2 separate regions of the Homo sapiens genome follow, and region 2 is reported to be linked to region 1. The links are microRNA targets in miRTarBase. Many come from high-throughput screens and were not tested one by one. Region 1 holds a microRNA gene; the other region holds the end of a gene's coding sequence.

The links. The annotated mature microRNA hsa-miR-513c-3p reads UAAAUUUCACCUUUCUGAGAAGA and lies in region 1 at 3,488-3,510, opposite strand. An mRNA with a match to its seed (bases 2 to 7 or 8) in the 3' UTR can be bound and repressed. Matches are read on the target gene's strand: a 7mer-m8 pairs with bases 2 to 8, a 7mer-A1 pairs with bases 2 to 7 and ends in A, and an 8mer does both.
Region 2: miRTarBase lists CPEB3 as a target of hsa-miR-513c-3p. Seed matches in the 3' UTR shown: 7mer-A1 at 3,611-3,617, 8mer at 3,097-3,104 and 7mer-m8 at 2,205-2,211.

Annotation. Positions count from the first base shown.
Region 1 is chrX:147,186,230-147,191,433 of GRCh38, forward strand. It overlaps MIR513C (microRNA 513c), which reads right to left and starts at 3,558; the gene lies at 3,475-3,558. The region is part of intron 1 of LOC105373347 (periphilin-1); the gene reads left to right.
Region 2 is chr10:92,047,929-92,053,132 of GRCh38, forward strand. CPEB3 (cytoplasmic polyadenylation element binding protein 3) reads right to left here. Exons shown (of 10, transcript NM_014912.5): 10 at 1-4,511. The coding sequence ends at 4,284. Among named protein-coding and RNA genes, the nearest start is that of BTAF1, 130 kb to the left of the region's middle.

The DNA of each region.
Region 1 (5,204 bases):
AATCATTTATAAGAAAATGGCACAAAATTGTTGACCCCATCCTAAAACCTAAGTATAAATACAGATAAATGTGTGGAAAGATCCACATCTAAATTTTATCAAACACTGTATCCACATTATGATGTTACTGGAATTATTTCATTACTGCTATTCATGTTTTTCACACCTTGTATGTGCTTTCCACATTGTTCTGTAATAAATAGGAATTATCCTCATGGTCTGAAAAAGAAATACATCAATAAAAATGTAGTTTTCTTTGGCAGAATTCTGATATAAGAATAACTCGGACAGGTGTAAAAGTTGTTTTTGGCAGTTATTTTTCCTCTTTTGAGCTTCCTGAATCTATACATACTCAGCCTGTTCAGTTAGAGTTCTTGCCTTTCCATGTTCCTGACTCCTAAGCTGAACACATTTTAATTTATTATATATTATGAGGATAAACTAATATATTCACATTAACGAGGTGACGAAATTATAGTATAGCAAGGAAGGTCCAGAATGAATACGTAAACATTAAACCAGGGTTTTTCATGTGCTAGGACTACAACACAGATCAAAACAGCTTCAACACATGCTAACAGAACTGACATTTTAAAACACAGATAATTTTTACAAAGTAACTAGTAAAATACTTAGTATACACAGGAGTGCTAAATTATATGTAGTTATTTATGCTGGATATATGTTATATGTAATTCAATAATGTGATAAATATTTTTATTCTGTAATTTGCCTTTTTATTATCTCAGTGGTCTTATTTGAAGACGTCTTAATTTTTTCAAAGTCTATTTTATCAATTTATTTTTAATAAATTTTATTTTTATATTTTGATATCATATGTAATAATTTAATGGTCAAAAATATTTTCTCTCATTTTTTTCATGCAATTTGATAGTTTGACGTTTTGGCTTAAGATTGTGTTAATTTCTGTATGTGGTTTGAAATACGATCAAGGTTCATATTTTTTATATATCTCACATTTCCCAGCATCTTACTGTTTAAATACTATCATTTCTTCATTAGATTGACTTTACAGCTTAGTCAAAATGAATTGGTGACATATATGGATATTTCTGGTCCTTCTATTTGTCCATCCTTTCTTCAGTACCACAGTACATTGGGTAATCTAATTAGACAGTAAATCTGGAAATTACAAGTGTAAATTTTCCAGCTTTGTGATTCTCTTTCAGATTGTTTTGGATATTCTAGTTTATTCGCCTTTTATATCAGTTTTAGAATCATCTTGCTAATGTCTACAAATATTTTTCTGGGACATTGGTTGGAATTGTATTACTTCTAGAGATTAATGGAAGTCTAAAAGTCTATAGATTTGAATCCTTCAATCCATAAATATGATAGTCCTCGCCACTTAATTAGTATTTTTTTTTAGTATATTTACAGTTTTAGCATACAGATGTTTTGGGGTTTCTATTGATACTGTAATAAATTGCCACAGATTTAGTTGTTTACAACAACACAAATTTATTATATTAGAGTCTAAAGGTCAAAAATCTAAATTAGGTTTCTCTTGGCTAAAATGAAGGCATTGGCAGGGCTTTGTTCCTTCTGTTGGCTCTAGAGGAGAATCTACTTGATTGTCTTTAGAAGATTCTAGTTACTTTCTCCATTCTTTGGCTCATGGCCTTTACCTCTACCTCTAGTCAATACTATAGTATTTTGCAATGTTTCTCATTCTAACCACCTTTCTCCAACGTATAAGGGCCCTTGTGATAATGTTGGGCTCACCTAGATAATCTAGGATAATCCCAATCTCAAAATATTTAATAACATCTACAAATTTTCTTCTACAATAAAATATGATGCTTACGAGTTCAGGGGTTACATTGTGAACATTGTTTGGGCGGGGGCTGTTACTCTGCCTACCACAGAGATCTTGTAATTTTTTCTTAGAGTTTCAAATAAATATTTTATGTTCATATTTTATTTTTCAATTAGCTTGATTTAATCATTGCATAATGTACACATATATCAAAACGTCATGTTGTACACCTTAAATATGATTTTTATGTCAGTTAAACCTTAATAAATTGGAAGAAAAAAGGCTGAGTAATACAAAACAGTATTTCACTGAAAAAAAACACAAATACCAGTAAATATACTATTCTTTTGAGAAATCATAACAGAGGTATGATAACAACTAAATTCTCTTTTATTTCATTTTAAGATATCACTTAAAGTTATATAAGTAAACATGCATCACTATAATACAGTTTTAGAAATTATATACTAAAAACAGTTATCACTTTGGAAAATTCTATGTACATACAGTATTGCAAAGTGACAAAATTTTTTTACTGTTCAGAATGTTGCCCCCACCCCAAAAAGATTGTATGTATTCTATTATTACAATGTTTTTCATTATGGAAAAGATACTTCAACTGTTTTTTTTACTTTCAGACATTAATGGTCTTATACATATTCATACATTCTGAATCTAAAAAAACATAAACCAAAATCCTGCCTGTAACCATATAGTAATTGTTTTTTATAGTTTTTCCCTTTCGGTGTTTATGCTGTAGCCTCTGTTTCAGTTGGAATCAAAATTGTATTAATCACTTACTATTTATAACATTTTTTACACATTTCCACAATATAAATAGCTTATTTATAACCTACTTCCCAAACATGTATACTAGATTAATGCTGCAGATGGCCTTACATAGTCTGGTGCTTGTCTTTCTCTTGCATGTTCTCTCTCTCTCTCTCTCCTCTCTCTCTCTCTCTCTCTCTCTCTGTGTGTGTGTGTGTGTGTGTGTGTGTGTGTGTGTGTGTGTGTTTATTTCCCTCTATTTCTCTCCATTAGGTTAAGAGTTAAGCGTCACCAAAAGAAAATGGGGAGAGAAGCCTAGGAGATATCTCTTGAGTATCAATTCTGTCATACCCTTCCATTCTTCAAATATACTCTTAAAAAATGGGGAAAAAAGATAATTAAAAAGGGTGAAATATTCTTGGGTGGACTATGCTTAACCCTTCATAAATTGGTGACTGAAGGCTTTGAAAGGTATTTTAACAGTCAATGAGAAAATGTTTTAGTCTTTGACAGAAAATGGACACTGTGGATCAGCAATGAAGGGACCTGAGAGGCAGGAGAGCCTTTTGGGAGCACTAAAGGACAATCCTTGCAAATGATGACTAGTTGATCAGTGAAAAGAGTTTAGAGAATTGAGGAATCTGGAGTAAAATGTCTCAGCTGACGAAGAATGGCTGTGGCCTCTATACAACGTATTTCTTATTTGAGCCAAGCCTCATTTGGCAAAAGTAGATAAATTCTTAAGGAACCAAAGTGCATGCGTTTTCTCAGGAGTCCACAGTTCTTATGTGTAGTCGTCTAGAAGGCACAAAAAGTTCCTTGAAGTAGCCCAGCACTGAGGAGTGGGTGCACAGGATGCAAAACAGGCATCACCATGCTCGCAGCTACAGCCCCATCCCTAGGGACACCACATATGCAGTGCATGCTGTACATTACTCTTCTCAGAAAGGTGAAATTTATATTTTAGTTCACATAAACGACACCTCCTTGAGAAAGGCACTGTACGCTGAATGGCTGAATGTGGCATCCCAGACCAAATGTTCCCTATTCATGCCGTTTTTATTCAAGTCCCTATAGGTGTATGCCTTCGCATGGCCACCAAGATTTATGCCAAGTAACAATGCAACTTCTAGCCCCTAGCACTCCCCTTTTCACCCTGCCCTGAGTGAGATATTAACATGCAGATTTTTGTTTTGTTTTGAGACGGAATCTGGCCCAGACTGGCATGCATTGGCGTGATCTTGGCTCACTGCAACCTCCGCCTCCCGGGTTCAGGTGATTCTGCCTCAGCCTCCTGAGTAGCTGGGATTAAAGCTGTGCACCACCATGAACAGCTAATTAACACGCCGATTTTTAGGCTGAGCAATGATAGAGCTTTTCACTTCTCCTCTTTTTCAGAGGTGAGTTATCCTTGTCTGAATTATCCCATTGGTTTTCCTGTAATTTTGCTTGTCTCATTAAAAATCCTCAAAGTCTTTGCTATTGTGAATAATGCCGCAATAAACATACGTGTGCATGTGTCTTTATAGCAGCATGATTTATAGTCATTTGGGTTATATACCCAGTAATGGGATGGCTGGGTCAAATGGTATTTCTAGTTCTAGATCCCTGAGGAATCGCCACACTGACTTCCACAATGGTTGAAACCAACCCAAATGTCCAACAATGATAGACTGGATTAAGAAAATGTGGCACATATACACCATGGAATACTATGCAGCCATAAAAAATGATGAGTTCATGTCCTTTGTAGGGACATGGATGAAATTGGAAATCATTCTCAGTAAACTATCGCAAGAACAAAAAACCAAACACTGCATATTCTCACTCATAGGTGGGAATTGAACAATGAGATCACATGGACACAGGAAGGGGAATATCACACTCTGGGGACCGTGGTGGGGTGGGGGGAGGGGGGAGGGATAGCATTGGGAGATATACCTAATGCTAGATGACGAGTTAGTGGGTGCAGCGCACCAGCATGGCACATGTATACATATGTAACTAACCTGCACAATGTGCACATGTACCCTAAAACTTAAAGTGTAATAAAAAAAAAAAAATCCTCAAAGTCAGGCTAGGCTCGGTGGCTCACTCCTGTAATCCCAGCAATTTGGGAGGCCAAGGTGGGCAGATCATCTGAGGTTAGGAGTTCGAGACCATCCTGGACAACGTGGGAAAACTCCCATCTCTACTACAAATACAAAAGATTAGCCCGGCGTAGTGGTGGGCGCCGGTAATCCCAGCTACTCTGGAGGCTGAGGCAGAAGAATCACTTGAACCCAAGAGGCAAAGGTTGTAGTGAGCCAAGGTTGCACCTTTGCACTCCAGCCTGGGCAACAAGAGTGAAAATCTGTCTCAAAAAAATCTTCAGACTCAGCCGGGCATGGTGGCTCATGCCTGAATTCCCAGCTCTTAGGGTGGCCCAGGTGGGGAGATCACTTGAAGCCAGAAGTTTGAGACAATCCTGACCAACATGGTCAAACAAACATGGTAAAACACCATCTCTACTAGAAATACAAAAGTAGCCAGGTGTAGTGGCTTGCACCTGTAATCACAGCTACTCTAAGCTGAGGCAGGAGAATCACTTGAACCAGGAAGGCAGAGGTTGCAGTGAGCAGAGATGGTGCCAATGTACTCTAGCCTGGGTTAC
Region 2 (5,204 bases), not on the chromosome of region 1:
CTTTGACTGTAGGTGCTATTGCAATGACACATTAATGACTGTGCCTTAACTGCCCAGCTTCCAGGTGAGGAGGGTGTTGGAAAAGCAGCAGCAGAAAGGCAGACAGATCATGCACGCAGTTGCCACAATGAAAGGCAAGGGGCACCAGAACAGGAAGCAGGCATGGGTGTGGAGGAAGATGCAACCCGACACATAGTCAGGGTCCACAGACAGTGGTGACATCCGAGTGTGCTTCCTCAGTGCCACCAACTGAGCCTTACAGGGAGGCAGCATGAGTGAGACCCTGCAGGTGAGGTCTGCAGTACACCACGAAAGCCGTGTCCTCTTAGCAACTTCCTGTATGACTCCGATATCACCACTGTCAGTGCACATAAAAGATTCGGCCTGGGAGAAAGGCACTGTCTCACACAAGGACAGCAGTTGGTGGCAGTTTTTCTCTCTCTCTCTCTCTCTCTCTCTCACACACACACACACACACACGACATAATGACGAGTTAGAGGGGAAAAAGCAATGAAACATTCTGTTGACTTAGCCAGATTTTAAACCCAGTGGTACTTCGGTTGGGTGACTTCATTCTCAGGGCCACAGGTTTGGCTGCACCTGGTGTTGTATAAATCCACCGTGACATCCCTAGAGAACTGCACTGTGACATCCCTAGTCTTACACTAAACCACTGTGATAAAGGAAAAGGCTTCTCAAAATCTCACATGTTCTGCTCATTCTGTCATTTTATTACCCAATTATCCATTACATTTCCAATCACTTTACATAACCAAGCATTTTCATCGTTGTCACACTATTGTAAACCACATCAGCAAGTTAATACATAAAGCTTTGCATTTCAAAAAACTAGACACTTTAGTAACAATATTACAAAGGTTTTAGCTTCAAAAATAACTGAAAATGAAAAAAATAAACTTTTAAAGAATTAGCATCATAAAATTAATTTATTCCAATAAAAATACAAAATAATATTATGACATTGACCAGATATGAAAGTCCCTCCCAGAAACAACTCTATTAATGATTGAGAAAGCACTCCTTAAAGAAAATACGAAATAAAATGAAAAATATGTAAATATGTTTAATTTTTTTCTTAGCAAAAAATCTTTCTAAAAATAACAATGAAAATTTGTCTCAGTACAAAGGCTACATTACTATTGAAAAAATACCAGCATGAAGAAAAGGTACATATTTGACAGTAGAAAAATGATTTCAGTGAATCACAATGTCTAAAGTTTGCAATGAAAATAAATCTGCAATAAAGATTTATGCCTTTTTTCTTTTCTTTTTTTTTTCTATTTTTTATACAAACAGTACAAACAGTATTGCACATAACAACAAATAGTCGAGGTTAGGTTATAGCCTTCAAAAAATCGACTAGTTCAAGTGTCACACCAAGGAAAGGCCACAGCAGGACCTGTGTTACCCAGGGGCTTCCCAGTCAAGTTGCAGGTCAGAACACCTCTGTGTTTTAAAAAATAATTTTTTTGAAGGACCCTCTCTTTTAATATAACATTAACAACTTGGGGGCACATTTATTTACAAAACAAAAGGGAACATGTTATAATTTAATAAACTAAAAAAGTTCTCTTTAAAAAAATACAAACAGAAGAACTCTTTCACAATCCTGGTCAGTCGCGCACAATCAACACTTGATTAGAAATATACAAATTAAGGGAAAGTAGTTTCCACCATCTATTCACAACTTTCAGCACCAAATGGAGTTTATTTTTTGTAACCTATTCTTCAGGACAATGTTTTTTGCCTTCACTTTAGCTTTATGCTGTACAATCTTCCAGCTTTTAAAAAAATCTCAGTGTTATTTTAATACATGAAAGAGGGGTGCTTCTTCAAAAAGTTTTGCTTCTTTCACATAATTAGGTAGATTTCTGTAGGTTAGATATGATCTTTAATATTATAGTTATAAAGCTCTAACTTCTTCATTTTCAAAAAACACAAATAAGCATGAAAAAAATAAAGTTACCCATCTGTTAAATCATTTTCTTGCAGAATTAAATTAATATATATTTTTCTGAATAAACTTACTTAGAAAATATCATTTTCTTTCCTATATTTCAAAATTGAGGTATTGCAAAAGATCATGTCAGTCAGAAAGCATGCCTTTTTCCTTAAAAACAAAAAAAAAAATCTGCCAACTTTTGAAAACTGTCTAGAATACAAAAAGTAGTAGTGCATAACAAAATTTCTTGTACAGATGAAAAAAAACCCACAAACATAGAAAAAAACAAACAAAACCACACCTGGGCTGGAAAAAAGCAATTATTACCAAAAAGCCTCAAAAAGGGGAGGATTCTAAAATAAGCATTTTTAATCCAGTAAAAAACTATTTTGTTTTTCCTTTTTGAAAACAAACTATAGCTTGAGAGCCAGTAATTGCAACTAAACATGGGAGAACAAAACAAAAACAAGCAACACTAACTTAAGACAGTACAAGGACATCACAGCACAGAAAACACAGCGACTTAAATCTATTCTGCAGTGTCATATCCAGTCAGATTGTCCCCAGAATTCCAAAACATAGGAAGAAGATTAAAAAAAGATTTACATAGTCTTGCAATCATTGTGTGTGTTTATATATTACTATCTGCAGCCCAAGGGTGAATGCTAGAAAAATGTCCACGCTAGTGCTAGCAGGCCTTCATTCTAGACCACGCTAGTGCTAGCAGGCCTTCATTCTACTCAAGCTTAACAGGATAAATCCAGGGAATTAAGTAGTTAGTTTCTCACTCAGACAACCAACTCTGCCCAGGCCATCTTATTTTGTACAGACATTTCTTTAGCATCACCATTACACAACTTTCTTAAAAATGTGCCTAGTTTGTCAATCTGACAACTTATCTCTATATCCTGTATATATTCTTAGTGTTTGTAAGCTAAGATGAGCTCTTTGGTTTTCTGGACAAGGTCTGAAGCTATGTAAAATGGTGCAAGCACTAAGAGATTGTAACTAAGAGCTCATGTGTTAGTTTATAATATATCAGTTATGAACTGTCAAGTTCATTAATGTCTGACAGAGGCTTTAAACAGTTAAGTTTGATCACAGTTAGACATAATCACTTTACTATATAAAATAAATTTCACAATATATAACAGAGCACCGCAAAGTACTTCATCTACCATCCACAAATTTGCTTGAAGAATATCCTACACCTAGGTTTTATATCGGTTGTAATATAGGTCATTCTGTTATGGGCTCTTCCCATTCAGAGCATTCCATTTATTGAGGCATGCCTTCCTCCGGTCAATTACCAATTCTTTGAATGAAAAAAACTTTTTTTAAAAAATGAGTATTTTTATAGCTTATATAGATTCTTAATTTGTGCATTGTGGGAACGTTTTATACTAGACATTGGATATAAAATTTATTGCATGCAGCAACCTGATTAAGTAAACATGCAGTCAGAAATAGTGACCTTCCACCGAAGCTTTCTGAAGTCTATTCTGATCTCCGTTCGGCAGCTGACTCTATCCCTAAAATCACAAAAGTGTGTTGTTGGGTTTTTGTGTTTAATTGATATCCTAGCCTGAATAGAGTATTATGGTATTAATAATACCATTTTAATAGCAGCAAAAGCTATTGCAGCATAAATTTACATAATACTAAAAGATCTAACCAAAATCCTCGGCAAAACAAAAATCAAACATGAAGGAAAAATAAAAGATCCAGCTTATGAGGTATCCTTACAAGTCAAAATAGAGAGCAACTAAAGGCTTATTTTCATGAAGGGTTATCCTTACTCTAAGTGACCCGAGCTAATGATTGCTGAATTGTTGTGAAGTTTTTGCTACATCTGCCACCTACTCACGAGTATTACCTTTGGTAAGTCTTGTCCTAGGGGCAACTCTCTAAGTTTCTGAAAATAAGTGCATGCTCCAGTTCAAAACAATCAGAACAACACCACAACAACAAACAAAAGAATCACAGACAGTAGCCTGACGGCCGCTGATGAGAATGGCAGTCTACATACTGTCACGAGTGACAAATCAGGTATAAAAAATTAAGGTACCAAGCAGACAAAGGTGTGAATCAAAGTGCAAATCAGTACCATTCTACACTCTGCAATTCTGCATTATACTGGACACTGAGTTCAGTAATATGACTGTAAATAATAATAATAATAATAAAAAGACCCAATTCTTCTTTAAAAATCGAGAACGAATGCACAGATTTCCAGAACACTGTAAGCCCTGAGGCAGTGCCCTCTCTTTTCCCTCCTTGTTATCTACTCCAGTACTTGTGGCTGGGTCGGCCCGTGGCTCAGCTCCAGCGGAACGGGACGTGACGAGGGCGGTCGCCTCCCTCCTTCACCAGCGGTTTGTGGAACTCCCGCCCGGCTCGGGAATGTATGCTCGCCCAGCAGTATTCACAGTAATACTGCAGACAGGTGACGTTGGCACAGAAGAACGGGGCAAACTTCCCACCACAGCGTGTGCCCTGGCACTCATCACACATCTGATCATCCAGCACATATGGCTTTACTTCAACCTGGACCCAAAGAGGAAAGACAGAGAAAAATGATTTAGCAAAGCTTCCTTACATGTCTTGCTTTTGAGAGTTTACACTATAGCTTCAACGTATGTCTCAATCAGACGCTGCTTTCAACTCTGCTGATACTGGATGGTGGTTGAGAGCATGGGCTTTGGAATAAGCTCCTTGATTTACATCTTGCGTGATATTAGACAAATTCTTAAAATCTCTGTGCCTCTGTTTGCTCTATCACTGTATCTGTAAAATGGGTATGTTTACACACACATAAACACATTACACACACACATTTGTGTAATCTGTAAATGGGTATAACAGTGTTTACATCAAAGGGTGCTGGGGAGGATTAAGAGGGGCTGTGCACGTCAAAGCGCATGAGCTGAATCCTGAAAGCCGGGCAGCATCTGACAATGCAGGCAAAGAAGAACATTGCAGGGAGAGGAAGCAGCCAGGACAAAGGCCATAAGCAGGAGGAGGCAGGCACATCCTTGGGAGATGCTGTAGCTGAAGCCAGGCCCGAGGGCAAGAGGCACAATGAATATGGGAGGAGCTGAAGGGAGATGCTGCTGTGAGGCTGTGCACCTCAGTGTCGTAATGACACAGCTCCCTGAGACTAACACCCCAACATTGCATACCATGGACTGGAGAGGAAAAGGGACTCACAGCTGAGGTGTTAAGAAGCTACTATAATAA